4 linked regions of the Homo sapiens genome follow. The protein of the gene in region 1 interacts with the protein of each later gene in a pairwise test. Each region holds a gene or a part of one and is shown in the gene's direction. Other genes may lie near its edges.

What was found.
Region 2: the proteins of TPM3 (region 1) and NUP54 interact in binary tests that used the Homo sapiens proteins (3 or more experiments, as listed by UniProt).
Region 3: the proteins of TPM3 (region 1) and HSF2 interact in binary tests that used the Homo sapiens proteins (3 or more experiments, as listed by UniProt).
Region 4: the proteins of TPM3 (region 1) and TNNI1 interact in binary tests that used the Homo sapiens proteins (3 or more experiments, as listed by UniProt).

What each region holds. Positions count from the first base shown.
Region 1 is NC_000001.11:154,175,090-154,182,123, reverse strand, and holds part of TPM3 (tropomyosin alpha-3 chain), read left to right. Parts: intron 1-3,919; exon of another isoform or gene 3,920-4,010; intron 4,011-5,875; coding exon 5,876-6,009; intron 6,010-7,034. UniProt on the Homo sapiens protein: Binds to actin filaments in muscle and non-muscle cells. Plays a central role, in association with the troponin complex, in the calcium dependent regulation of vertebrate striated muscle contraction.
Region 2 is NC_000004.12:76,124,372-76,131,405, reverse strand, and holds part of NUP54 (nucleoporin p54), read left to right. Parts: intron 1-121; coding exon 122-176; intron 177-656; coding exon 657-750; intron 751-6,649; coding exon 6,650-6,757; intron 6,758-7,034. UniProt on the Homo sapiens protein: Component of the nuclear pore complex, a complex required for the trafficking across the nuclear membrane.
Region 3 is NC_000006.12:122,395,186-122,402,651, forward strand, and holds the start of HSF2 (heat shock factor protein 2), read left to right. Parts: upstream 1-4,466; 5' UTR 4,467-4,552; coding exon 4,553-4,645; intron 4,646-7,466. UniProt on the Homo sapiens protein: DNA-binding protein that specifically binds heat shock promoter elements (HSE) and activates transcription. In higher eukaryotes, HSF is unable to bind to the HSE unless the cells are heat shocked.
Region 4 is NC_000001.11:201,411,699-201,418,732, reverse strand, and holds part of TNNI1 (troponin I, slow skeletal muscle), read left to right. Parts: intron 1-920; 5' UTR 921-939; coding exon 940-950; intron 951-1,613; coding exon 1,614-1,617; intron 1,618-3,478; coding exon 3,479-3,520; intron 3,521-4,083; coding exon 4,084-4,215; intron 4,216-5,611; coding exon 5,612-5,701; intron 5,702-7,034. UniProt on the Homo sapiens protein: Troponin I is the inhibitory subunit of troponin, the thin filament regulatory complex which confers calcium-sensitivity to striated muscle actomyosin ATPase activity.

The sequences.
Region 1 (7,034 bases):
GCAGAGCTGATAAGCGAGTGTATGGCAGAGAATCAGATGGTGTGCCAGTCTCAAGGTTTCTGATTGACTTGGGCAATTTGGTGGAGACAATAATGAATTCCAGGTGACTCTAGTGGAATATTTGTTCAACTGAAAGTGGAAACATAAAATGTTGGTGGAGTGAACAGTGATTCTAGTGATTTCTTTCTTCCTTTCTTTTTTTTGAGACAGAGTCTCACTCTGTCGCTCAGGCTGGAGTGCAATGGCATGATCTCGGCTCATTGCAACCTCCGCCTCCCGGGTTCAAGTGATTCTCCTGCCTCAGCCTCCTGAGTAGCTGGGATTACAGGTGCCCGCCACCAAGTCTGGCTAATTTTTTGTATTTTTGGTAGAGACGGGGTTTCGCCATGTTGGCCAGGCTGGTCTCGAACTCCTGACCTCAGGTGATCCACCCACCTCTGCCTCCCAAAGTGCTGGGATTACAGGTGTGATCCACCGTGCCCAGCCTATTCTAGTGATTTCTTTAAACGTCTTTCTGTTTAAAAGTGGCTGATTAGTTTTAGTGTAAGCCATAAGATTTTCCAAGGTCTAGGGTGCAGTCTAATAGATGGAGCTGATACGAGTTGAGGCTTTGTTTTGGAGGATCTTGAGAGAGTAAAGTAACTGTTGCTAAAATTCAAGATCCAGTGAAAGTACTCATGTGGTTTATTCTTTGTTCTTTGTTCTTTCCCTTGGTAAGTTTTTGTTTTTGTTTTTCTTTTTGGCTGCTCCTCTGGGAAATAACTGAGAATGTTTTTGGGAGGGGGAGGGGTGGATTTCAGAAAAGGATGGTAATTGGGGGACAGCTGCCCTCCAGTTTAAATACTTAAAGATTGTTGGAATACTCACTTATTTTTATAAGTGGTCATGGAGATGCTGGGATGGGAGCTTGTTGTCTTCCTCAGACACCTTTTTCTAGGTAGATTTTTTTCCTCTGTTCAGTTTGCCAACAACTTCTTATTATCTGTGCAAGTGAGATGGACTGGCTGGGTGACTCTTTATGGCCAGTGGCACTTTCTCATCTCCTTTGTTCTGGAGACCAGATAGCTTTAAAGGGGAAGACAGAGGAACTGGCCATGTGTTGAGCTGCAGAATCTTAGGCTCAGTATTTAAATATGGACATTCTAGGAGTAGTTCTAAGGTGGGTGATTCCTGCCTCCCATCCCCCCTCTTTTTTTTTTTAGATGGAGACTTGCTCTGTAGCCCAGCCTGGAATGCAGTTGCACGATCTCTGCTCACTGCAACCTCCACCTCCCAGGCTCAAGTGATTCTCCTGCCTTAGCCTCCTGAGTGGCTGGGATTACAGGCATCCACCACCACACTCGGCGATTTTTTTTTATTATTTTATTTTTTTATTTTTAGTAGAGATGGGGTTTCACCATGTTGGCCAGGCTGGTTTCAAACTCCTGACCTCAAGTGATCTGCCTGCCTCAGCCTCCCAAAGTGCTGAGATTACAGGCATGAGCCACTGCGCCTGTCCTGGGGTGATGTTTCTTAAGCTACTTTCACTCAGAGCCTGCCAAATTTGCTTATTGAGCTGAGGTCTAGTGAGGAAGTCCTCAGAATGGGGAAGTAGAGTTATAGTTAAATATTGATGAAATCATTTCTTCTACTCCCCAGCCTGAAGAAGCTTAATCTTTTGACTTTCTGCTGCTCTGCTGAACTTTGAACCCCTACTGAGGAGGAGACACCTGTGGGAAGGGAGGGGGGTTGCTTGGGCTACCTGTTATCCTCTTAAGGCATTCTGGAATGTGGGTTTTGCAGACTCCTCCCTCCTCTGGAGCGGGAAACTGCACTCTCTGATGGTATCTCATGCTGTTAGTGGGATTGTCACTTAATTATTTTCCTGGTTACTTTGTGTGAACATCCAAGCCACCCTTGTTGGGAAGCTAGATGAGTCTAAAACTGAGACACTGGTGTTCTAGGATCCATCTTTCTTTTCTGCTCTCGGCCTGGAAATTGGTCTTTTATAATGTAGCACCTTGTCAAATTTACTTTCAGTTCTGTATTTCCTTTTTACTTCTGTCTAAATGGAAACAGATGGCAACATAATGTTTAAATGCAGTCTTTTTCCTTATCTCTTTTTTTTTGTGGTAGTGGTGATAAAAATACATGTAAAATTTACCATTTTAACCATTTATAAATGTACAGTTCACCTTATCTGTTTTTAATAACTCTCTCCTAATTGTCCCTGATATTTTTCTCTTTTTAATTTTTTTCTAGTCTAAAAAACTTAAGAGGCTGGGTGCGGTGGCTCACACCTGTAATCCCAGCCCTTTGGGAGGCCTAGGCGGGTGGATCTGAGGTCCACCTGTGGATCTGATGAAACCCCATCTCTACTAAAAATACAAAAAATTAGCTGGGCATGGTGGCGCATGCCTGTAATCCCAGCTACTTGGGAGGCTGAGGCACAAGAATTGCTTCAACCCTGGAGGCGGAGGTGGCAGTGAACCAGGATTGGATCATGCCACTGTACTCCAGCCTGGGCGAGTATCGGCACTGGGGGAGTGAGGGGTCAACTGCGGGAGTGTAAGGTCAGCACACTACCTCTGCCTCAAAAAGAAAAAAAAAAGTAATAACAAAAACCTTAAGAGTACTACCGAGGGAGTGGGCTTTGATTCTGGCCTTAATCCTAAATTCCTAGTCTCTGGAGAGGTTAGAATGCTTGACTGTTGTGTGGTTCTCTTCTATTCGTGGGCCTGGTGGACTAAGCAACCTTTCTTTGGTTGCTTTGCTTTCCTTTCTCTTTCCCCAGTACTAGAACACACACTCACAGGGGAGAGGCAGATAGCCCTTTACCCCTGCTTAGGCTCCGCCTTTGTTTACTGTGGGGCAGATAGCTCTACTCCCTTCCAACTTGCCTCCCCTTTGGTGAAGTTTAAATTCCCCAAGGACACGGTATCTCCCTGGGTAATGCATTTGTGAGCACAGTGAACTCAAATAGTCCTTTACTCACAGGGCTCAAGCCTAACTTTCTGATACTCTTTCATTTGAATTTTATCTGTGGCTTTTATCTAATAAGAGAAACCCCAGTGTGGCAGAAAGCCAGATTTAGGCTAATCCCCTTCTGTCCTTGGCCCTGTTCTGCCTGAGAGTACCATCACACTGTCAGTTTCTTGCCTGGAGGGGTTGACATATTTGGGAAATCTCTTTGGAGTGGAGGATAGCCGAAGGTGTTGTCAGCCATCTGGTAATGTGACTGAGTTGCTGGGGCATTCTACTCTTTCCCCAATCCCTCACCCAGGATCTTTGCTTCCTGGGCAGTGGAGAATCCTATTATTACTTGAAGGGAAGAACCACAGAGTACTGTATATCCTCCACACTGGGCAGAGATAGGTCAGCTGAAACACCAAAACCGCATCTGGATGGGCATGCTAAAACCTAAGATGATTAGGAAAGTGCAGAGCTTAACGTTTCCCAGGGCCACAGGTAGCCTGGTCTGCAAAAAGTAGGCCTGTTCAATCTCTTGGTACCCATTGGTATTATTTGACCTGAAAGGGACAGGCACTGTGCATAGACTCATGAGGGAAAAGTCAGCTTGTCTTCCTTGTTCCTTTAAACAAAGTATCAGATCTTGATTCTGCAGGCTTTTGTTTCATTGTAAAGAGAACTGATCCTCTGTGCTAGGAGAAAAGAGAAAGGCAAGGTCCCATTCCCTACCACTCCACCCTGGAGGGGGTCTCTGAAGCTTTTTCTAGGACTCCCATCTCAGGTTCTGCTTTTGATACAGGCTTGTTCATGTGTGCATGCTCTTAGGAGGGCACCAAGATGTGTTTTCCCCCTCTCCCTTTTCAGCCTTGCTAAGAATTCTATTGTAAATGCTGATTTGTGGGAGAAACTGCCTGAGCCAGCTTGCTGTCATGGCAACTGTACACCCCCGCCCCATAGCCTGTTATCTTCTACTCCAGTTTGGGTAACTACTGGTGAGCTGCATGATGTCTTACATTTCATGAGCTTCCTCTAAATCTAGTTGTATTTTTCGTCTGAGGGGGGTAAGTCATTTTACTAGCAGTGTCTCCTAGGTCTTGCCTGATAGCCTGACTTGCTCTTGATCCATGGCCTTGTTGGGTTTGTGAGGAGAAATGTGTGTTGTTACAGAGAACATCTATTTTTCTGGAAGAGGCAGAAGCAGAGAATACTTGTCTTTGTGGTGTTTTGAGTAGTGTAGTTAGAGGCACAAATGGTTTCTTAATGATTTCAGCTTATGTTGACTTCTCGATTTTCTTTGCCTGGTGGCTAGATTGTAGCCCCAGCCCTCTGCTTCCCTTCCTAGTCTCTTCAGCTTCTCATGTTTGTATGTGGAAGTTTTTGTGCCAGTCCTGATGGTTAAAAAGGAGTCTTTTGGTCTATATTCTTCCTCATCGGAGCTAGTGGCCCAGGCTGTTTCTATAGCTGCACCAACTCCTGCCTGCCAGGAAGAAATCAGGGTAATAGAATTCAGGCACAATCTGGGCTATAGAAGAGAGATCGTGTTTACCAGGCACTTGGATAAGCATCTGAACTGGGTGGTGTGCGGGGCATATTAAATTCTTGTATACTGTTGCAGTCAGGGTACCTCCCACCAGTAAAGGTAGCGGGGAGGCAGTCATGGAAAGAGGTTTTCCTACCATTAGAATTTATCCATCCACCTGCAGGCTGCCTCCTTCTTTCCTTGTTTCTTAGAGAAAACCCATCCAGGATGGGTTTACTTGGACTCTAACCTATATACTTCATTGTGAGATGGAGGCCAGGGGGAAGATTGTCGCTGTATTAGAGGGTGAAGCTAAGGGGATGGCTGGAGGAATAGAAAGGAGAAAATTCAGAAATTTGGAGGAATGGTAGTGGGTGTGGTGGAAATGTTCTTTCTTTTTTGTAAAGCTATCAAAGCAGATAATTTTAGCCAGAAGCAGCTCCTTGTAGCCAACTTAAAAAAGGAGTACGGGGGCACAAGTTGAAGGGCTGGTGAGTAGGCATCCCAACAATATTCCATTCTTTTGCTTTCCAGTCTGGAAGGCTATTCTGGAAGACATTCCCTTGGCTAGTTATTCTTCTGATGTGTTAGGGTAAAGTGATCATAGGAATAACGGTTTGAGTTAAGCAGCAATTAATAGGTAATCCAGGATTCCCTCTTTTTTTTTTTTTTTTTTTGAAATGGAGTTTCACCGTGTTGCCCAGGCTGGAGTGTAGTGGCGCAATCTCAGCTCAGTACAACCTCTGCCTCCCGGGTTCAAGGGATTCTTCTGCCTCAGCCTCCCGAGTAGCTGGGACTAGAGGTACGCGCCACCACACCTGGCTAATTTTTGTATTTTTTATTAGAGTCAGGGTTTCACCATATTGGCCAGGCTGGTCTCAAATTCCTGACCTCATGATCCACCCGCCCCAGCCTCCCAGAATACTGGGATTACAGGCATGAGCCACCACACCCAGTCAGGATACCCTCTTTAAGAAACCTTGCTTTTTTTTTTTTTTTTTTCCTGCTTTATGAGACACTTGAAAGGTTACTGAGGATGAGACATGCCTCCAAGCCAGAGCTCAGGCAGAAGGAACCCTTCATTGACTTTCTTTTCTGACTCCAGTGTGTTGAGGAATTTGAACTGAGTCCAGGAAGTGGGTGGTACTAACTCACTGGGCTGGGCAAGGAACTGAGTTTTAAAACACTCTTCCTGTGGAACATATGGGAGTTCGTTGATGGGAAAGGGAGGAAATATATATATATAAAGTTATGTCTGCTAGATCTTTTAACAGCTGAGCTAAGACAAGTTCTACCCTGCGAGACTCTGGCTTTTTCATGGTAGTCAACCCTGATCTTAATGTCATAGTTATTTCTTCTTTTCTCCATGCCTCTGCTTCCCTTGTCCATTCTTTCCTTCAAATGCAGGCTGAGGCTGAGGTGGCCTCCTTGAACCGTAGGATCCAGCTGGTTGAAGAAGAGCTGGACCGTGCTCAGGAGCGCCTGGCCACTGCCCTGCAAAAGCTGGAAGAAGCTGAAAAAGCTGCTGATGAGAGTGAGAGGTGTGTAGGGAAGCCTGATGGAGTGTGGATTTTAAAAGTTCATAATAGTTCTGATCAAGATTTCCTTATAGACCTGTTTTCTAAATAGCAATTCTGGCTGCGTGTGATGGCTCACGCCTGTAATCCCAGCACTTTGGGACGCTGAGGCAGGAGGGTGGCTCAAGCCCAGGAAGTTGGGGCTACAGTGAGCTCTGATTGCGCCACTGCACTCCTGGGTGACAGAGAAAGACCCTGTGTCAATCAGTCAATAAAAATAAAATACTAACTCCATCACACAGGATCTCCTTTCTATTCTGCATATTCTGTCCCCTTGAAGACAGTAAGGGTAACTTAGATGTTGTGACCCTTTTGTAATTGGTATTTCCTTACAAATTGGCCTAATGATCCTTAAAATGGGATCACCAGTATGACTTCTACTTTCTGGATCATAAGCTTCTATTTGTGAGATTAATTTCTCTAAAACAGAGGTTCTCTAAGTAAGGTCTCAGACCAGCAGCATCAGCAATACTTGGGAACTTGGTAAAAATTCACATTCTCAGCTCCTATGCTGATCTGCTGAATCAGAAACTTTGGATGTGGGGCCTGGCAATCTGTTTTTAGTAAGCCTTCTCAACGCTGGTTGCATTATTAGAATCATAGGTAGGGGTGAGGGGGGAAATCACTGGGGAATTTAAAACTGGATGCTTAGATCTCATCCCAGTTCCATTAGAATCAGTTGCAAGAGGGGTCTGGGCATTGATGTTTTTAAAGTTCTCCAGCTAATTTTTTTTTTTTTTTTTTTTTTGAGACAGAGTCTCGCTCTATAGCCCAGGCTGGAGTGCAGTGGCGCAATCTGGGCTCACTGCAAGCTCCGCCTCCCGGGTTCACGCCATTCTCCTGCCTCAGCCTCCCAAGTAGCTGGGACTACAGGTGTCCGCCACCACGCCCGGCTAATTTTTTGTATTTTTAGTAGAGACAGGGTTTCACCGTATTAGCCAGGATGGTCTTGATCTCCTGCCTTTGTGATCCTCCCGCCTCGGCCTCCC
Region 2 (7,034 bases), on another chromosome or scaffold:
TTGACAGTCACTTTTCATTATAGCTTCTAGGTATAGGGTCTTGCTTTAGGAAAGCCTTTGTCATACACATATTATAAAAATAGAAAATTGTTTTAGAAAAAATATTTTTTATTTGTGGTAGGTGTTGATCCTATTATCTGGGAACAGGCCAAGGTAGATAACCCTGATTCTGAAAAGTAAGTATGTCTTCATCTTGTTTCATTTAAGAACTAATATTTGCTACTAGGAAAGCAAACATGGGAGCTATTAATTATAATTCTTACATATGAGACAAGTTTATTTTCATTTTCCTGGCCTTTAAAAAATATTGATTATTGTCCAGCTAAAGCTTCAGCCAAAACAAAAAGAAAAAAATAAGAAAAAAAAAGATTATGGTAAGGCAGCATAGCATAGTGAGAACTAACTAGGAGCGGAAAATTCTATTTGCGTTTTCATTTAATAATGTAATGTTTTGACTGAACTGTATTTCCTCATTTGTAAAATAGGGAGGTTGAATAAAATCTCTTTGGTATAACATGGTTATCTCATAGTCATAGATCTGCCTTAGAGCCCTAGAAAGTTGATGTAAAATTACATGAGTGTTACTAAAACCTTCACTTCTTGTATTTTGTAGTAATAGGCTTAAGGTCTGAAAATTGTTCACTGCGTTTCTTCAGGTTAATTCCTGTACCAATGGTGGGTTTTAAGGAACTTCTCCGAAGACTGAAGGTTCAAGATCAGATGACTAAGCAGCATCAAACCAGATTAGATGTAAGCATTTAGCTTTTTATTCCCTGGCCCTGGAAGTAGGGAAAGGGATTATAGACATTTAATTCTTTTTAGTATATGTGCTACTGTTTTATCTTAATCAGGAAACAATGTAGCATACACTGCAATTTAATAGTTTTATACAACTACCTTCTTTATGATAGAAGTCCCCAAATCACATGAATCTGATTTGATATAATAATGAATTTAGAATTCTTGTCTTAGTGGATTAATTAGACTGTCATTTCCAGTTTCAGCCAGGGATTGCATATTATTATTTATGGGGCCTTATGAAAATGAAGGTTATAGTAATGATTATTTTATGTTGACATATAATTGTCTTGGTATATTATTGTATGTTGATAAAATTAATGCTTAAATATACTTAATATTTTATTTCATAAAGTAGACTTTTTTAGGAGACCAGGGTGGGTGGATCACTTGAGATCAGGAGTTCAAGACAAGCCTGGCCGACTTGGCAAAACCTGGTCTGTACTAAAAAATTCAAAAATTAGCTGGGTGTCGTGGTGCACGCCTGTAATGCCAGCAACTTGGGAGGCTGAGGCATGAGAATTGTTTGAACCCGGGAGGCAGAGGTTGCAGTGAACAGAAATCGTGCCACTGCACTCCAGCCTGGGCGACAGAGTGAGACTCCTCAAAAAAAAAAAAAAAAAAAAAAAAAAAAAAAAAAACTTTCATAATTAAATACTTAAAGATTCTTAAAGGTCAGAGAAATTTCTATGATTTCAATTCTTTTAACTTTGCTAAGGTTTTTTTTTTTTTTTTTTTTTTTTTGAGACGTCTCTCGCTCTGTCGCCCAGGCTGGAGCACAGTGGCGCGATCTAGGCTCGCTGCAAGCTCCACCTCCTGAGTTCACGCCATTCTCCTTCCTCAGCCTCCGGAGTAGCTGGGACTACAGGCGCCTGCCACCACGCCCGGCTAATTTTTTGTATTTTTAGTAGAGACGGGGTTTCACCGTGTTAACCAGGATGGTCTCGATCTCCTGACCTCGTGATCCACCCATCTCGGCCTCCCGAAAGTGCTAGGGTTACAGGCGTGAGCCACTGCGCCCGGCCAACTTTGCTGAGGTTTTATAACCCAGGAGCCTATGAAAATAATGTGTATTCTGCAGTCCTTGGGTGAAGTTTTCTATTAATGTCAGTGAGATCCAGTTGGTTGATAGTATTGCTCAGTTCTGTATTCTTGTTGTTTTTTCTGTCTGCTAGTTTGAGAAGAGATTTGAAATCTACAGCAACACTTACGGATTTGTGTTTTTCTCCTTTCATTTCTCAGTTTTTGCTTCATGTATTAATAGTTTGAAGGGCTGTTGTTATATAGGATTGTTGTGTTTTCTTGGCAAATTTACCTTTTATTATTATATCATATCCCTCTTAATCCTCGGTAAGTTTTAAATCTTCTCTAATGGCCTTTTCTTTTATTGTTTTTAATCGATACATAACTACATATTTATGGGGCATAGTGTGATAATTCAATACATGGATATAGTGTGTAATGATCAAATAAAGTAATTAGCATATCCATTACCCCATACATTTATCATTTGTTGGTATCATGGGAAATTCACTCCTATAGCTATTTGAAACACAATAAATGGTTGTGAATTATAGTTACCTATAGTGCTATAGAACACTGGAACTTAATCCTCCTATCCAGCTGTACTTTTGTATCTGTTAAGCAACCTTTGGCAGTTCCCTACTCCTACTCTTTCTCCACCTCTAGTAGCCACTATTCTACTCTTTTCTTCTACTAAATCAACTTTTTTTAGCTTCCACATATGAGTGAGAACATGCAGAATTTATCTTTCTGCACGTGGCTTATTTCACTTAACAAAATGTCTTCCAAGTTCATCTATGTTGCTGCAAATGGTAGCACTTCATTCTTTTTCATGATTAAATAGTATTCTATTGTGTGTGTATATATGTGTACACATACACACCATGTTTTCTTTATCCATTCATCTGTTCATGGACACTTACTCAAGACACTCAGAAGTCTTTGTCTGGTGTTAACATAGCCACGCTACCTTTCTTTTGATAAAAAGTGTTTGTATGGCATACCTTTGTCCATCTTTTTGCTTTTAACCTACCTATATTGTTATATTTGAAGCGAGATTCTTGTAGACAGCAAAAAGTTTGGATTTAGTCCTACCATTTATTTGTTTTGTGTTTGTAGCCTCTGTTTTTCATTCCTGTTTCTACTTTTCTGCTTTCTTTTGAGTTATTTGGACTTTTTTTTTTTTTTCAGCATTTCCTTTTAATCTATTATTTCAAGTCTTAGAGCAGTACTTCTTAGTAGTGGCTTGTGGTGGTGGTGGTGATTTTGTCTCCCAGAGCACATTTGGCAATGTCTGGAGACTCTTGGTTGGGGAGTACTACAGGCGTCTAATGTGTAGAGGCCCAGATGCTGCACACATTCTGCAGTGTACAGAACAGTACTCCCACAACAAGGAATTACCCAAGATTAATAGTGCTGAAGTTGAGAAACCTTTCTCTAGGTAATACGATGTATCTCCTCCCACTATAACTAGCAGACTTCCCTTGGAGCTCCCTTTCAGCATTTATGCTCATTTCCAGGTTTGAGGCTGGGTTGAAACCAGACTAGGGACGCCTGAGGGGAAAAATGGGTAAACTCACCACAAGTTTATTGGTACTTTAAATTCCTATCTTACCTGATCTTCCTGCCAGAGTTCCCAAATAGCTGCCCCGTGTATTCCATCCAAGTTTTATAGCTATATTAAATGGGAGAGATTGGGGTTGTATATGCTTAGTCCATCTTGTCCAGAACTGAAATCATTCATATCTTTGGCCAGTGTTTCCACTGGGCTTCCTATTTTTTCTTTATTGAACTTCAGTAATCATTTACTCTAGATTGTAGTCTCTGTTTATAACGTTGTAAATATCTTCTAGTTTCTCATCTCTTTGTTAATTCTGTCTTTGGTGTCTGTAGTTGAAGAGAAATCCTTAATTTTAATGTAATGATATCCATTAAATGTTTGCCTTGTATTTTCTTTTTGGGAATTTGCTTAAATAATTTTTCACCCCAAAGTCTGAGAGTATCCTACATTAAAAAAAATTTAGAGTTTAACCTTTCACGTTTGAGTCTTTTGTTGTCATCATGAAGTTTACCTTTATATAAAGTATGTGGTATGAACTCAGATTTATTTTTCTCTAAATAGTGGGTCCATTTTTTTTTTTTTTTTTTTTTTGAGATGGGGGTCTCGTTCTGTCGCCCAGGCTGGAGTGCAGTGGCGCAATCTCGGCTCACTGCAAGCTCCGCCTCCTGGGTTCACGCCATTGTTCTGCCTCAGCCTCCCAAGTAGCTAGGACTACAGGCGCCCACCACCACGCCTGGCTAATTTTTTGTATTTTTAGTAGAAATGGGGTTTCACCGTGTTAGCCAGGATGGTCTCGATCTCCTGACCTCGTGATCCACCCGTCTTGGCCTCCCAAAGTGCTGGGATTACAGGCGTGAGCCACTGCGCCCAGCCCTATATTTTTAATATTGCCTATAAAAATATGATATTCCTCAATGATTATCAAAGAATTTAAATTACACTGTTTGCATATATATATGTGATCTATTTCTAGACCCTCTCTTATGTTTCATTGGCCAGTTGGTCTGTTCTTATACCCACCCATTCCACATTTTTTTAGTCTTATGGCTTTGTAGTGTATCTTAATATCTAGTAGCATGAATCTCTAATCTTGGTTCTTCTTTTCAAAGTTTTCTGGGTCTTTATGGGTCTTTATTCTTCCATAAAAACTTTAGAATCAATTTGTCAGAATGCTAGAATTATGGTTGGAATTGCATTAAATGCAAAGACTAATTTGTGGGAATTGAATTTTAATATTAAATCATTTCATCCATGAATGTGGTATGTCTCTTTAATCCTTGCAGTCTTTTATGTCCTTTAAAATAATTTTAAAATATTCCCTTTTAAAATCTCATGCGTTCTTTCTTGGATCAATTCCTAGATGGCTTTCTTGGATCAATTCCTAGATGGTTTTAGTATTTGTTAATAAATACTGTGGCTGATAACATGTCTAATTTTTTTAGTTATTACTGGTAGAAAATAATGTTGTAAGTACTCTTGTATCTAAAAACCCTGGTGATTTTTCAAAATTGGGATGGGGAGATTGCCTAGGTTTTGTAATATAAAACATGGCCACCTAATTTTGTCCTTTCAGCATGGCCTGGCATTGGAAAGTTTCTGTAAAAGGTGATGTGTGCAGGTGGATGTGCTAAAATATGTCTTGCACAATCTTAACCTCTTTCTTGTAACATGTAAATGTAAGCCAGTGGCATAGAATGATTAATTATGATAGAGACAATTATGGGATTAATTCTGATTGGGATGCTTTAATAAAATAGTGAGATTTTAACCTACCCTGTAAGGTTAAGACTTCCTAAGGCAGAATAGTGGGATTTCAGTCAGGTAAAACAGCAAGTCAAAGATCCAGAGGCATAAAAATGTATCCTGCTGCATAATTAATATCATTCCTTTTCCTCTGCACTCTGATTACTCCCTCCAAGTATTCTGTAACAGTTAATGTTGAAATGTACTGTACTTGCTGTCAGTAGTTAGATACAGGGCTAATTGTCTATTAAGACACCCCCTAGATATCATCTTACACATCTTAACTTTTTCCACTCAGACCTGGTTGTTGGCTGTATTCCATGTTACTTCAGATTCCTTAATTATTTCTGAAGTATGTGTTTTCTTTTTTTCCTTTTGAGATAGGTCTCTCCCTCTCTCTCTGTCTCTCTCTCTCCCTCCCCCTCCCCCTCTCTCCCTCTCTCCCTCTCTCCCCCTTTCTCCCTCTTCTCCCTCTCTCTCCCTCTCCCTCTCTCCCCCTCTCTCCCTCTCTCCCCCTCTCCCCCTCTCCCCCTCTCTCCCTCTTCTCCCTCTCTCTCCCCCTCTCTCCCTCTTCTCCCTCTTCTCCCTCTCTCCCTCTCCCTCTCTCCCTCTCTCCCCCTCTCTCCCTCTCCCCCTCTCCCCCTCTCCCCCTCTCCCTCTCCCTCTTGCCCATGCTGGAGTGCAGTGGCATGATCACGGCTCACTGCAACCTCAAACTCCTGGGCTCAAGTGATCCTCCCACCTCAGCCTCCTAAGGAGCTGGGATTACAGGCATGTAGCACTACACCTGGTTAATTTTTTATATTTTTTGTAGAGACAAGGTCTTGCCATTTTGCCCAAGCTTGTCTCAAAATCCTGGTCTCAAGCACTCCTCTTGCCTTGGCCTCCCAAAGTGCTAGGATTACAGGAGTGACCCACTGTGCCCAGCCGTGTGTGTGTGTGTGTGTGTGTGTGTGTGTGTGTGATGGAGTCTCACTCTGTTTTTTGTTTTTTGTTTCTGTGAGATGGAGTTTCACTCTGTTGCCCAGGCTGGAGTGCAGTGGCACGATCTCGGCTCCATCCCCCAGGTTTAAGTGATTCTCCTGCATCAGCCTTCCAAGTAGCTGGGATTACAGGTGCATGCCACCACACCCAGCTACTTCTTTGTATTTTTAGTAGAGACGGGGTTTCACTATGTTGGCCAGGCTGGTCTTGAACTCCTGACCTTAAGTAATTTGCCTGCCTCGTCCTCCCAAAGTGGTGGGATTACAGGTGTGAGCCACCACGCCCAGCTTATTTTTTCTATGTATTGCCTCATTGCTAAATTTCCTAGAGCTCTAAAGATATCTTTGCATGATTCTTTTAAAAAAATTTTAGGTATGTAAAAAGGGAAGAAATATAAAGCACAGATTTATAGGGAAAGAGTTTATATTTTGAGAGATGAATCTCAGGCTTATCCCAAGATTAGAATTTCCATACAGGTGTAACTGATAAATAGTTGTGATATTTGATTAACCCTCCCCCCCCCAATTTTTTTTTAAACAGATCATATCTGAAGATATTAGTGAGCTACAAAAGAATCAAACTACATCTGTAGCCAAAATTGCACAATACAAGAGGAAACTCATGGATCTTTCCCATAGAACTTTACAGGTAGTAATTTGGATTTTCCCCCCCAGTGTTTATAAGACTATGTGTGTGAAATAATGTACTAAATATAGATTTTTAAAATAGAAAAAAAAATACTAAAATGAAAGAATAATGTGAAATTACAAGTACCGAATTCTTTCAGTAAAACTTTGAAATTGGAAAACAAGTCTCATAGGTTTGAGTGAGGAGAATAAAAATATCCTAAAGTTCGTATTTTAGTGACAGTTTGAGGGAAAGCAGTGAAGAAATAAAGCATCTTAGTGCAAGGGAAGCTTCTGTG
Region 3 (7,466 bases), on another chromosome or scaffold:
TGGTAAAAACTATGAAGGTCAAGTTCCAGAGCTATAGGAGCACATGGGAGGAACAACTAACCCAGATTTGGGGGTCATGCAAGAATAAACAGATGATTAGCACTTACCTGTTCATGTATTCATTTATTAATTCAACAAATATTTATTGATATTTTAACATATATCATGCATTGTGAATGTCATTGTAAATAAGTGAATGTACATATGACATAGTATTTATGTTGAAGCAGTTTCATAGTCTAGAATGAAAAATACATGTAAATAAATAATTATAATATGATGTAGTAAGTGCTATAATAAATGTTACCAAGGAAGATTTCACAAAAGAACTTATGTTTGTACGGGATTGTACTTGACCTGGAAGGTTGAAGAAGAATTTAGGGGAAAATGGTGAAGAAGGGCTCTGCAGGCAGAGACAACAGCCTATGGAAATACATAGAGGTATAAAAGAATATGACCAGTAAGGTAACTACAAGCAATTAGGTGTGGCTAAGGGAAAGGCGTTGTAAACAATGGTAGACAATAACTGAAATGGTAGGCGGCATCAGATCAGAGAAGGCCTTTTATGCCCCTTAAGGGGTTTGAATTTATTCTGGAAATTATGGGAAGTCACTGAATAGTTTTAAGTCAGGAAGTGACCTTTTCAGATTTGTGTTTTAGAAAGAGATCCATAAAGATTGTGAAAGTGGACTGGAGGAAGAGACAATTTCTTTGATCTTCAAAACCACCCTGTGAAGTGAGCATAGCAGATATTTTTCACTCACATCTTATATATAAGGAACGAGGACTAGAAAATGTTAGGTGATTTGCCTAAGGTCCCCTAAGTCATTCCAAAATTGAAGAAAATCAACACTTTGTCCAGATAGCAATATAGGTGGAAACCTCTATGCAGTTCACCTTTGGATTTAATCATCCTATCCTTGAAAAAAAAATCTTTAAAAGCTAATACTGGTTGCACCGTTGATTCCAATTAGTTTTGCAAAATCGATTGGATAGAATTTATGGCATCGTCTGATGATTTGAAGCATCAAATTGCTCCATAATATGCTTTTCTATTTCCTAGACAAAGGTCTGGATCATTCATATTTTTGAATGTTATTCTAAATCTAAGTCTTACATTCTAGGCTGCAAATGAACCATGAAAATAATCCAGCTTTTTAAACTGGAGTTAACAGGAGGCAACTCCTTTAAGAAAGTGACATTTTTATCTTCTTGTGTTATAAACATGTCAAAATTGTCGACACTGGCGCAAATCTGTTTCTTCTGATATTTTAGGGATATTATAGGTGGCAAATAATTGTGAGATAAAGCTTGATTTTGTTTTCTTCCCCTCTCAGTTTTATAAATAAGTGCAAACAAGCCAAGTTATAATTTCCTTTTCCCCAAAAAAAGTCTGCATTCAATACTTAGTTTTTCAGAAAATGTACTAATTATAATAAATATTAACGATTATAAGTTCATAGAAAAACAAAACATAGTCGTTTAAGTTATTCCTGGAACATCTGGATTTTATTAAGAGATGAAGGGTGGCCAGGTGCAGTTGCTCACACCTGTAATCTTATTACTTTGGGAGGCCAAGGTGGCAGATCACTTGAGCTCAGGAGTTCAAGACCAGCCTGGCCAACATCGTGAAACCCCATCTCTTCTAAGAATACAAAAATTAGTGAGGTTTCGTGGTGCAGACCTGTAATCCCAGCTACTCAGGAGGCTGAAGCAGAATTGCTTGAACCCGGGAGGCAGAGTTTGCAGTGAGCCAAGATCACACCACTGCACTCCAGCCTGCCAGCCTGGATGACAGAGTAAGTCTCTGTCAAAAAAAAAAAAAAAAAAAAAACAGACAGAAGTAAAGCATAACAATAAATCTGTACATCTTAGTAGTAAGGGAAGCTCAGTTTACTAATTTTTCCTCTATAACAGCAATTCTCAAAATGCGGTCCCAGGGCCAGTAGCATCTGCGTCATCTGGGACTTGTTAAAAATAAAAATTCTTAACCTGTACCCCAGACTTACTGAGAGCCATGGAAGCAAAAGCAGCAATTTGTTCTTTAAGAAGCTGTCCAGGTGATTCTGCGCTAAAGTTTGAGACACATTGGTGTAAATTTAAAAAGCATGTTTCAGACTACGAAAGACCTGGTTTCAATTCCAACCTTAACTAGATGATTTTGGATACATCATCTAAGTTTTCTGGTGCCAAGGTTTTCTTATCTGGTTAATAACTTATCCTTGTCACTGCCCTTATAAGTATTACAAATACTACCTGATAAGTGATATTGCTCATTTGCTTACTGGAAGGCTTCCCTCTCCAAGTGATTCAGACGCATGCTTAAGTTTGAGAACCATTTGTTTCAAACTTACGGTCTATAAGATGCCATACATTGGAAACAGAATCAGCTACACAATTTGCAAGATCCATTGCAAAATGAAAATGTACAGTCCCTTGTTCAAAAACTGAGAATTTCAAGAGGATGAGAACAGAGCATTAAACTAAGTATGGCACCCCACTAAGCCCAGCCCTATGAATGCCCAGCCTTTGAATGTCCAAAGACAAGTTTCTGCTTCTATCTAATCACACCTTCTTTTTTTAGAAGAAAATAATATAATGCCATGAAAGTAGGCCACATTTCCTCCTTAGACACTGCCATTCTTACCTCCTGAGCTGTTGCCCTCCATAGACAGACATGATCATTAGCTTCCTGGTTTTTGCTCATTCTGTTGTCTTCCTTTTAGCTATTCAAATATATTTGTACCTCAAGACCCAACTTAAGGTCCCTATCTGCCATGAAATCCTTCCTTACCACCTTAACCTACTAATCTGTCTTTTTAAACTTATCTAGTACTTATTTTATACAAAACATTTAGCTCTTTTTGTATATATTGAGTGCTGATCACTGTGGTCATATTGTTTCTTGAGTTTGAATATAAGCATCTTGAGCTTTGAAACAGTGTCATCATTGTACAATGGAAAGGGCACATACTTTTGAGCTCAATAAAGCTTGGGTGTAAATACTCTCCCATTTACTTGCTGTGACTGAAGAAATTAATCAACTTTTGAGTCTCAGAATCTTCTCTGGGAAAATGGGATAATAAAACCTAGTTCATTGGGTTGTTGTGAGGATTCAATAATATATGTAAAGCCCTTGGCATATATAAGGGCTCATCAAATATTACTTCCTCTATCACATGCATGCCTCCATATATCTGATTTTGCTTCAGCCAACATCCCAGTGCTGAGCACAAAGGCAGCATTCACTAAATACTTGCTCATTGGAAGAGATATACATATATCTTCCATTAAATGATAGATATATATTTAATGTACTATTTTACATTCACCCAAGAAGTAAACCAATCCTATGTTGAAGTTTTGTATGTTATCTCTGACTTGTTTGTAAGTTTTTGCCTTCACATGCTGACTTTTGTAAAAAAAAAAAGTCGAATTTTGTAGACTTCATATTTTCAAAGCATTTGCACAGCCATTATAGTATTAAAGACACTCTTAGTGGGTAAAAAGATAGATCTTATTCCCAGTCAAGAAATGGAAAAAACTGGCACTGGTGGCTAAGGAATTGTTCTAAATGACAGAACCAGTGTATTTTAATATACAGAAAAATGTCCAAGAGGCTTTATCTAAACTGAGATCTACTGACTCCTTTTCCATTGTTTTTTCCACTATACCAATCTCTTAGGCAAAAAAGACTATATCTGTAAAGTATACGCAGGAAAAACTATTTTAATTAACTAAAATAGTACAAATGAGTCTATTTCTTTTTATTCTGGGTACAGAGTAGGCACTTGATGACTGGATTAAAAACAGCACATGATATATCAATTGCAGTTCCTGGTTTACAGTTTTAAGTAATCGAGAGTGAGTTATTTAAACTGCTCTTTTTGATAAACATATTTTAAAGAGGGCTTTTTCTCCCAATGAAAATGTAAGAACAAGTTTCATTATTTTTAAGACAATTTCAATTTGGGGCCTAGCACATCATGCTTGAGAGCTGGTTTTTTCCTTATGCAAATGGATCCTTTCTCTAAACTGGTGCAAACCACACTTTGCCTGCCAAACTTATGACTCAAAGGCCCTGAAGGGTTTCTGTAGCCTCCCAGCCACAGCCCAGAAACCATAAGCTGTTTCCACGTGAAACATCCAAACACGGTCTCCCAAGCCTAAGTCTGCTACCATCAAGGCTTCTGTATAAAAGGCAAATGAGGAGGCAGCGCCCCCTTCTGCTCCCACCCCCTTCTGCTCCCACCCCCTTCATGTCAGCAGCAGCCAATCGCTTTTCTCTGTCGTGCAGTCGGCTCCTGGGATTGGCCAGGGACGGGACAGGCGCGGAACCACTGCGCGCACAGGCGGAGCGCGGAGACTTGTCCGTCACGTGCGGCCGCCCGGCCTCTCGGCCTTGCCGCGCGCCTGGCGGGGTTGGGGGGGCGGGGACCAAGATCTGCTGCGCCTGCGTTGTGGGCGTTCTCGGGGAGCTGCTGCCGTAGCTGCCGCCGCCGCTACCACCGCGTTCGGGTGTAGAATTTGGAATCCCTGCGCCGCGTTAACAATGAAGCAGAGTTCGAACGTGCCGGCTTTCCTCAGCAAGCTGTGGACGCTTGTGGAGGAAACCCACACTAACGAGTTCATCACCTGGAGCCAGGTACGGTCAGGCCACGGCGGCCTCTGAACCCCCTGAATAACCGCCTCCTCACTCGCTCTCCTGCGGGGTGGTCTCTCGCGGCCTTGCGGCTCGACGCTGTCTGCGAGGCCCGCGGTGCGGGGCCTTGGCGTTCAGCCTCGCGGGGGACCCCCTGTATTGTTCGCTCGGGGAGCCGCGGGGGCCCGGCCGGCAGCGCCGCTCTCCTCAGGCCGCGGTGGGGGAGGGGCGGCCCGCGCGGGGCGTAGCGGCCCAGGCAGCCCCTTAACGGTCCGGTCCGCGTTCGGAACCGGCCCGGCGTCGCGAGGGGAATCGGCGAGCCGAGGGCGCGGGAGCCTCTTTACTGCACACTCATCCTCCGTCCTCCCGCCCGGCTCAGGGGTTACAAATCGCGGAGGGGACAGGGAGCCCAGGGCCAGGATCATCAACGTGGGGCTTTATAGGAGGCGATCTTTACCTCAGCGACCGATCACCCCCAGTTCCCCCAACATTGCTTTGCATCTGGCATCTTTATGTGGAGAGCAGTCAGGGCAATAGACATACGTTCAAACGCAGGTTACTGCTTATCAGTTGGTTTTAAAAATATATAGAAATTAACAAATTATTCTTTTGAGATTCTGTGCTATTTGTATAATGGGATTATTAGGATTGTTTTAATAAAGTACTAATAGGTGGTAACTTAGTAGTTACTAAATTTCGCTGAACAGTTACCAGCAGAGGGGCATATCGATGTGTTGATTATTGGTTTGATCTCAACTCTGCTTCTAAACAAGCATGACCTTAGTCCAGCCCTTTATCTTGTCTGGCCTAAGTTAAATCTTTCATAAGATGGATGGGTTGCCTAGGTGACCCAAGACCTATATCAGTCCCAAATACAAGATTTTAGGCAGAATGATTATTTACATCCACAGTGCATGTGCATTAGAATACACTCCTAGGCTGTTGGAATCATTTTTATGAAGGAAAGTGGTTAACTCTTATTGTAGATGATCACCTATTGAGGCATATTTTCATATGTGTAGTTCTTGAGAAGAATAAGTGAAAACTACCTGCATAGTGCCTGGCACCTGTTAAGTGCTGAGTAAATGTTATCTCCCGTCCTCCTTTCTTTCCTGTTCTCCTATTATAGGAACTCTTAGTTTTATTTACTTTTGTCTTAACAGGGAGTGAGCACCATATTAAGACCCTGAAGTTTTGACTTCTGTAATACCATAGTTTGCCTTGTGTTATTATTTGTTCTTTTTTCCGACTTCCTTCTAGGATTTAATTTTTGTGTGTTCTTTATGAGCAACTGAGTTATCCTTTTAGCCCCACTCCCTGCTTGGAGTTGAGTAGGGGGGCGTGAGTGTTTCTATTAAGCATTTAATGAATTCTGTACAATTGTACAAAGCTAGGTGAAAATAAGAAAGCCAGCCACTAGCATGTACTTAAAATAAACACATGTCTCATGCTTTTCATCAGTTAGAAGGATTAAAAGTTGACAAGAAGGATCAGTACAGACTGTTACTCAGACACGTATTCGTGTTAGAGATTGGACTGAGATTCTCTCCCCACGAAAGCTGACTTTATCATACCTTTTTGTCTTTTATGGGCCAGAAATAGGGGCTATATATATTGGCAGTTGCTTTTAATCAGAGTATCATGTCAGTGGTAGGCCTATTAAATTCTGATTAGCAACAGTGTTTTAATAACATTCTTATTTTCTGAGTACTGTCAAATGTGGAGAGTTTCGTACTGATCCGTAAATGCATCATTCTATGAGTTCTAAGCCAAATAAACAAGCCACTTAACCATTTTTTAATCCCATTATTAACTTTAAGCTTATGTGTTAACCAATTTTCTAATATGCCAGTGGGACAATCAAAATGTAAGCTCAGTGAGATCACTGTGCCAGAGACACACTAGGTGTTTAATAATTGTTTGATGAATAAATGAGATCCCTCGAAAATGTAATGGAGTGGTAGGAATGATGAAGATAAAATTATATTTGAAATGACTCTTAGAGATCATCTAGGTTAGCCTTATCATTGTATAGATGAGGATTTGAGGCTTGGACAGGTGAGATTATTTATCCATAATTATACAGCTCGCCAAGATTGGAGATAAGACCCTAACATAAGCTTGTCCAACCCGAGGCTCACATGTGGCCAAGGATGGGTTTGAATGCGGCCCAGCACAAATTCATAAAGTTTCTTAAAGAAACATGAGATATTTTTGCAATTTTGCTTTTAAGCTCATCAGCTATCATTAGTGTTAGTGTATTTTATGTGTGGCCCAAGACAATTCTTCTTCCAGTGTGGCCCAGGAAAACCAAAAGATTGGACACCCCTACCCTAATAGATTTCTGAGCTCCCAGATCAGTCTTCCACCAATAGAACTAGACTTAATGCAAGTTGACATCATATTTAGTTTTATACCAAAATGTTGCTTGCCACAAGTCAATGGACAATTCTGAATAAATGTTGTCTAGGGCTAAGCCTAGTTGCTTAGGCAGCTGTCTCATTTGTGCTCTCCATGGATTTTTCTAAAAGCAGTGCTAATACTGAAAAGTAAAACTTTAACAATAATGTTAGGTGGAAAAACCAAAATAAGTTACTTTCATCTTTCTCTTTTCTTTGATGAATAAATGAAACCCTAGAAAATGTAATGAGAGTGGTAGGAATGATGATATAATAGTCCTCAACAGGCTTTGAATTTCCAAGTGGCAGAGACTATATCACACTATATCATATTCGTTTTTTTTTTTTGTGGTAGAGTATCACTCTGTCACCCTGGAGTACGGTGGCACGATCTCGGCTCACTGCAGCCTCTGCCTCCTGGGCTC
Region 4 (7,034 bases), about 47 Mb from region 1:
CTTGCGGCTTATTCTCTCCCACTCAAGGCCTCCCACTGCCCCACCCTGGAGGTGCCAGTTGCATTGCCATCTGTGGATGGAGTTGTGCCATGTGGCAGCTACCCGTTTTCCAGCATCCACTCTGCTCATTCACTTTCTAGGCCTTCCTCTCTCTGAGCCCTTCAATGACCACCCTTATTCCACAGGATAAAGTCTAAACTCAGCCTGTCCTTCAAGGCCCTCATGAGTGAGCTACACTCTCACTTATTTTTTTTTTTTTTTTTTTGAGAAGGAGACTCATTCTGTTACCCAGGCTGGAGTGCAGTGGTGCGATCTCGGCTCACTGTAACCTCCGCCTCCTGGGTTCAAGCAATTCTTCTGCCTCAGCCTCCTGAGTAGCTGGGACTATAGGCGTGCACCACCATGCTGGCTAATTTTTGTATCATTAGTAGAGACGGGGTTTGACCATATTGGCCAGGCTGGTCTTGAACTCCTTACCTCATGAACTGCCCGCCTTGGCCTCCCAAAGTGCTGGGATTACAGGCATGAGCCACTGCGCCCAGCTGCTCTCACTTTCCAAACATATTTCCTATGGACTCCATTCTGTTCTCCACTGGGATTGGCAAGCTTTATCTGGAAAGGGCCAGATAGCTTTGTAGCTCACATAAGGTTTCTGTTGCAAATTCTTAAAAAAAAAAAAAAAAAAAAAGCTTACAATTCTTTAAGCAAAAACAGGCTGGGAGCCAGGTCAGGCTTATGGGCTGTAGTTAGCTGACCCCTGCCCTGCAACCCTGTCCCATCTTGACCTGCTGGAATCCAATGTGTCTGATTTCTTCCTTTTGTGTTCTGACTCTGTCTCCTAGGCTGGGCTCCCAAGGCCCAGCTGGGCAGGGGCAGGGGTTTCCACTTTCCCTTATGAATGATTCCTCTGTGCCCCCTAGGTGCTGTCTCACTGCCACCATGCCGGAAGTGTAAGTAGTCTCACTGCCATCTGGGGCCCCAGGAAGGCAAGTCCCTTTGCCACAGACTTCAGCCCCGCAGTGGAGGCACCATGTTTTCAACCCCCAAAGCTTTTCCCTAAGAGACCAGGTCCTCAAACAGGGGCAGCACTTGATGGTTTCCCCTGTGCTGCCTGTGTCCTCCCAGCCATTGAGCAGAACTCACTCCCAGGTTGCCCTGGGAGTGCCTTTTTGGCTTGTGCCTCAGAGATTTCCTGTCTTGATCTATCACATGAATTGCATGTACCAGGCCACCACTTAACACTGGTGCAGTAGGTGAACAAAGCTTTGGGAATTTACCCACGCACCCGTGGATGGATGCTTTCACGTTGCTGGAACCCTACGCTAAGGCTTCCCTCCCCTTCCACCACTTGTCCCCAACTTACGATGCCCAGTACCTCCCAATAAGAATGCCCCGTAGTTCAAAGGGCTGTTGAATTTTTATTTTATTCTGCCGGAACCTCAAACCGCTCCCCTTGCCTGATGCCTGATGACTTTCTGGCTCACTGTTGTCACTGGCCCCCTCCTCCCCCAAGCTGGTCTGTGAGGTTCTGCGACTGCACATGTAATCCTCATTGTTCATACTCACTCTGTGTTCTGCTCTTTCCCCGTCCTTCCTGTGATGGATGCCTGAAGCGAGGTAAGTGATATTTGGGGTATCTCTGTCTTGGTTAACTCTAACGACTGGTAAAAGTGGGAAGGTGGGGTTGGCATCTGAGGAGAGGGAAGAGCCTGTGTTAAGGCCTGGTGGGAGTCCAGGGGGTGTAGGGTATTTAGTGGCTGAACAAATTCCCAGGAGATGGAAACGTCAGGTGAAGATTCTGGATGTGGGGCTTCCTAGTGTCCAGGGAGTTGCTGTGCCAGTGTACCATGTCACTGGAAGGACTGGTATTGCAGCAGGGTTGGGTGTGACTCTGCATCCTTGCTGAGCACAAGCTCTTCCTCACCCACTCTGAGAGCTGGTCCAGTCCTGGGGGGACCATCCTATTCCATGCAGAGCTGATCCTGTGCAAAGCTATATTGGAAGGGTAAGGGATAGTCATTGGGTTATTCCACCCTTGCCCAATGGCTGAACATTGATTGAGGAGCAAAGAGATGTCCTTAAATCCCTCAGGTGTTAGAAAACCCTGACACTGGCCATTCTATACACTCCAGACTTACCAGGCTACTGAGATCACAGCCTATGTACAGTCCAAGGATGGGGATGGCAGGGATAGGGATGTGGGCCCAGGGATGGAAACAGTGAGAATTAGCAGTATTGATGGAGGGGATATTTGGCACAGAGATTCTCAGTAAGAATTGAACATGTTACTTTTCAACATTCATATGAATTTTTAAGTTTTGCTGAGGCTCGTATTAAAGTGAGTCCTCACTGACTGATGGTCAAATGAGGTGGCCATCGGCTCACCAAGTGGTGGGGAAATAAGATCGCAGTCAAACATTTGCCATGTGTACATTACAGTGTGTAAACCATGGTAGTAATGCTTAGAGTCATAGGCTCTTTCTTTTGAAATTGCACTTATCTGAAATGTAACAAAAATCTTTAGGAGAGGAAAAGACAAACCAACCACTCTGAACAGTCAGAATAGAAGTTACACATTCCATTTGCTGAAACTCATCCATTGTCTCTCATGAGAACTTCCCTCTCAAAGCCTAATCACTTCTACTTGACACCCTGGAATAACATTTGAGAGCCATGCTCTGCCGGCTCACAGCACATTAAGTCTAGGTAGGATGCTTCCTGCTGGCAATGAGAAGTGACCGCCTATGGCCCAGAAGATACTCTAGTGCTCGAAAGGCATCACAGTCTCATTAGTTGGGGACCAAGCAGCCCTACTACTCACCTTTGCCAACCCTGAGGGACCACTGTCACAGGGCTAGGACTAGTAAGCAAGAACATGTTTAGGATTTTTGATAAGAAGATAAAACAGTGGTTTTATATCTTAGAAAGATTTGTATGGGTGGTGTTAACATTTTTAAAAGTTTTGAGGTCTACATAGATACGTTTCATTTATTTGGGAAATTCACAGCTTATTTATGCAGCATGACGGATCATCAAGGTATTGCTGTATTACTACCTGGAGTGTGAAAACACATAGCTTTTACGATTTTCAAAGGATTTGCACATCCATGATCTCATTTCATCTGCAATAACTCTGTGAACTAAGTAAGGGGGGGGGTCCTAATATCCTTATTTACAGATGAGGAAGGAGGTGCCTGTAGAAGCCATGTGGCCCTCATAGTATCTTACAAGATTTCAGCAGCAGCAGAATCAGAGTGGGAAGTTAAGGCTTCAGCCCCTAGGTCAAGGTAGCTGACTGCAGCCTTCTCTGAACTGCAGAGGTTAAATAACAAAGATGAGCTTTTAAGGCACCGTAGGGTGAGCAGAGGATTCCGGATAAAGATAGAGAACGCTGGCTGGCACTTGTCTTGTCCTAGACCAGAATTCCAGTTCTGCAGCCTCTGCCTCACCACCTGTCTCTCTCTCTTCTTGCCCACAGAGAAAACCCAAGATCACTGCCTCCCGCAAACTCTTGCTGAAGGTGAGGCTGGGGGCTGGCTGTGGGGGGATGCCCAGTGGGAGGCAGAGGGGCAGCAGAGCAGACTCTGAAGGGATGTGGAGGATTATGGCAAGGAGAAAGGAAGGAGGCCAGAGTGAGGATGATGAGGGGCAGGAGTCCAGCATTGCTGGAGCCAGTGCCAGGCTCAGGTGATCAGTAGGTGGGATCCTCGAGTATGGATTCTGGCATCCGCCTGTGGTCCCTAGAGTAGGTGGTGACCAGCTTCAGAGTGGGAAGCTACTCATGCAGGCAGAGGGACTTCCTTTATTTTCATATGTGTTTCTCTCTTTGGAGTTTTGTGGGTCAAAACAGACAGTAAGTGGATAAGAGGAAGACTGTCCGGGGAAAACAAGTTCCAGGGCTTGAGGAACATTGTGTGCAGCCACTGGGTGTACCCTCATGGTGGCCTGTCCATGGCTGCTGCATACACTTCTACACTGGACAGTGGTCTCAGAGTTGGCCCAGGCTGTGGCTGCCCTCCCCTCATTCCCTGATGCCGGGTGGGAGATGTGAGGCCCCCAGCTCAGCAGGTGTGTCCTGTCCAGAGCCTGATGCTGGCCAAGGCCAAGGAATGCTGGGAGCAGGAGCACGAGGAGCGCGAGGCTGAGAAGGTGCGCTACCTGGCAGAGCGCATCCCCACGCTGCAGACCCGTGGCCTGTCCCTCAGTGCCCTGCAGGTTAGCCTGGCAGGTGGGGCGGGGCAGGGTGGGGCTGGAGGTGCTGTGTGGGTGGCTCCAAGGACCAGGCGGCAGGAGCCTGAACTAACACCAGCTCAAGGCTCCATAATTTACAGGGCACTCCTCCCTTACATGGTCTCATTTAATCTTCACAACCACCTGTGAGGTGGGAACATTAGATTCCATTTTACGGGCACTGAACTGAGCATCAGAGGGGAGGCGTGACTTGCCTGGGCTGGGCGGCCCAGCTTCACAATCAGCCAGTGTGGTGGCATGGAGTGGGGAGGCGGCCGGGGTTGGGAGAAGCCCCACTTTTCCAAGGACTTGTCTACCCTTTCCTAGAATTTGGTCTTCAATGTTTTCAGAACACTGGTAAATTGGTTAAATGCCAGTGATTATAGAGAAAAGAGACTGGAAGGAAGTATATCAAAATGTTACTAAGTATCCCTGGGTGGTGGCATCACTAGGTATTTTAATTTTTATTATTTTTGTTTAATACATAGTTTTCAAAATGTCTAAAATTAACGCATTACTTTTATCATAAGAAAACTATTTTATTTTGCTGGGCACAGTGGCTCATGCCTGTAATCCCAGCATTTTGAAAGGCGGAGGCAGGAGGATTACTTGAACCCAGGAGTTCGAGACCAGCCTGGGCAACATAGTGTGAGACCTTTTCTTTATACAAAGTTTAAAAAAATGAGATGGGAGGGTCACTTGAGCCCAGGAGGTTGAGGCTGCAATGAGCCATGATGAAAGAATACTTTTTTTTTTTTGAGGCAGAGTCTCATTCTGTTGCCCAGGCTGGAGTGCAGTGGCGTGATCTTGGCTCACTGCAACCTCTGTGTCCCAGATTCAAGTGATTCTCCTGTCTCAATCTACTAAGTAGCTAGGACTACAGGTGCACACCACCATGCCTGGCTAATTTTTGTATTTTTAGTAGAGACAGGGTTTCACCACATTGGTCAGGCTGGTCTTGAACTCCTGACCTCAGGTGATCCCCCACCTTGGCCTCCCAAAGTGCTGGGATTACAGGGATGAGCCACCGTGCCCAGCCAAGGATACTAGTTTTTTGTTTGTTTGTTTGTTTTTTTGAGACGGAGTCTCGCTCTGTCACCAGGCTGGAGTGCAGTGGTGTGATCTCAGCTCACTGCAACCTCCGCCTCCTGGGTTCAAGCGAAGGAATACTATTTTTTAAGAAATCATGACATTCAGACAGGAGAACAGAGGGCATACCCTTTGAGCTATTGCCCGTCATGAGCCTCAGAGTGGAGGAGACTGTCAGCTCCTCTCTGGATCCCAGGTCTTGCAAAGGGGCTGGGGAGAGGGTCAAGGGCTGGAAACTGATGTCTCTGTTCCCCTCTTCTTCACACCTGCATGATCCATCTGCGGCCCCCAGGACCTGTGCCGGGAGCTGCACGCCAAGGTGGAGGTGGTGGATGAGGAGCGATACGACATTGAGGCCAAATGCCTCCACAACACCAGGGAGGTGAGTCTAAGGAAGGGAAGGGGCATGGCCATAATGGGTTGGGCAGGGGCATGGGCACGGATGCAGCAGCCATGGGAGGTCCCCTCCTTCCACAGGGCCTAGGAAGGGGCCACTTAAGCAGGAAACTTTGGTTTGTCTGCCCTAGCCCCATAGGGCTGGAGATGGGTAGAGTGGATAATCACACATGAAAAGTACAAACTTCCTCCCTACCTGCCATGTGGGCTCATCAGCCTAACAGAAGCTGCTCTCTTTATCCACCCACACAAATAATCATATGCCTGTTAATAACGTCTTACCTTTGTGAAGTGCTTTCATGTTCGTTATAGCCTTTGATCCTCCTTATAGGCCTGTGGATGAAGTAGGGGCTATTATCTGCACCTTGCAGAGGAGAACACTCAGGATCAGAGAGGCCAAAGACTTGTCCTAGGTTGCACAGTGGTGGTCCTGGGACCAGTGCTGGTCTCTGGCTTCCACTCCGGTGCTCTGTGCTCCCTTAGCATGGGGTGTGGGAGGATTAGCTCCACCCAGACCCTGCTCCAGTGGGGAGGGGCAGAGCAGAGAAGGACAGGGCTCCTTTGGGGCATTTGTCCAGGCAGTGAGGAGGGGGCAGGGAGGGAGCACAAGCCACTTCTCTCCTTCCCACTTCTGCCCACCAGGAATTATATGTGGGGTCACCAAGCTCCTAAGAACTCCCCCTAGAGATCACACCCTGGGAATTCCTCCAGGGGTCTAGGACCTGTAAGTTTATCACCCTGCTGGACCAAGGCTGTGAGCTGCTTTGAAGGCTCACTGGGGAGGAATAAGTTAGAAGCAGGGATGAGGCTGCAGGAACAAGAGGAAGCAGCCCTGCACTCCAAATAGGGCTTCCAAATCAGACAAGTCTCAGTCTGGTGGAGCCGCCCCTTTTATTCAAGGCTATAGTGTTAGCAACGGCTAATAGGCTTTATCTGTCCACTTAACCATCCGTTTATCAGCAAATGTGCAGTGGTTATTTGCAAAGGGATGGGTGGGTCTGACTGTCCTAGAGCAGGGATCTCCAACTCTTGGGCTGTGGACCAGTACCTGTCCGTGGCCTGTTAGGAACTGGGCCACACTGCAGCAGGTGAGCAGTGGGCAAATGAGCATTCCCGCCTGAGCTCTGCCTCCTGTCAGATCAGCGGCGGCATTAGATTCTCACAGGAGTGTGAACCCTATTGTGAACTGTGCATGTGAGGGATCTAGGTTGCACGCTCCTTATGAGAATCAAACTCATGCCTGATGGTCTGAGGTGGAACAGTTTCATCCTGAAACCACCCCACCACCTCTCCGTGGAAAAAGTGTCTTCCACAAAACC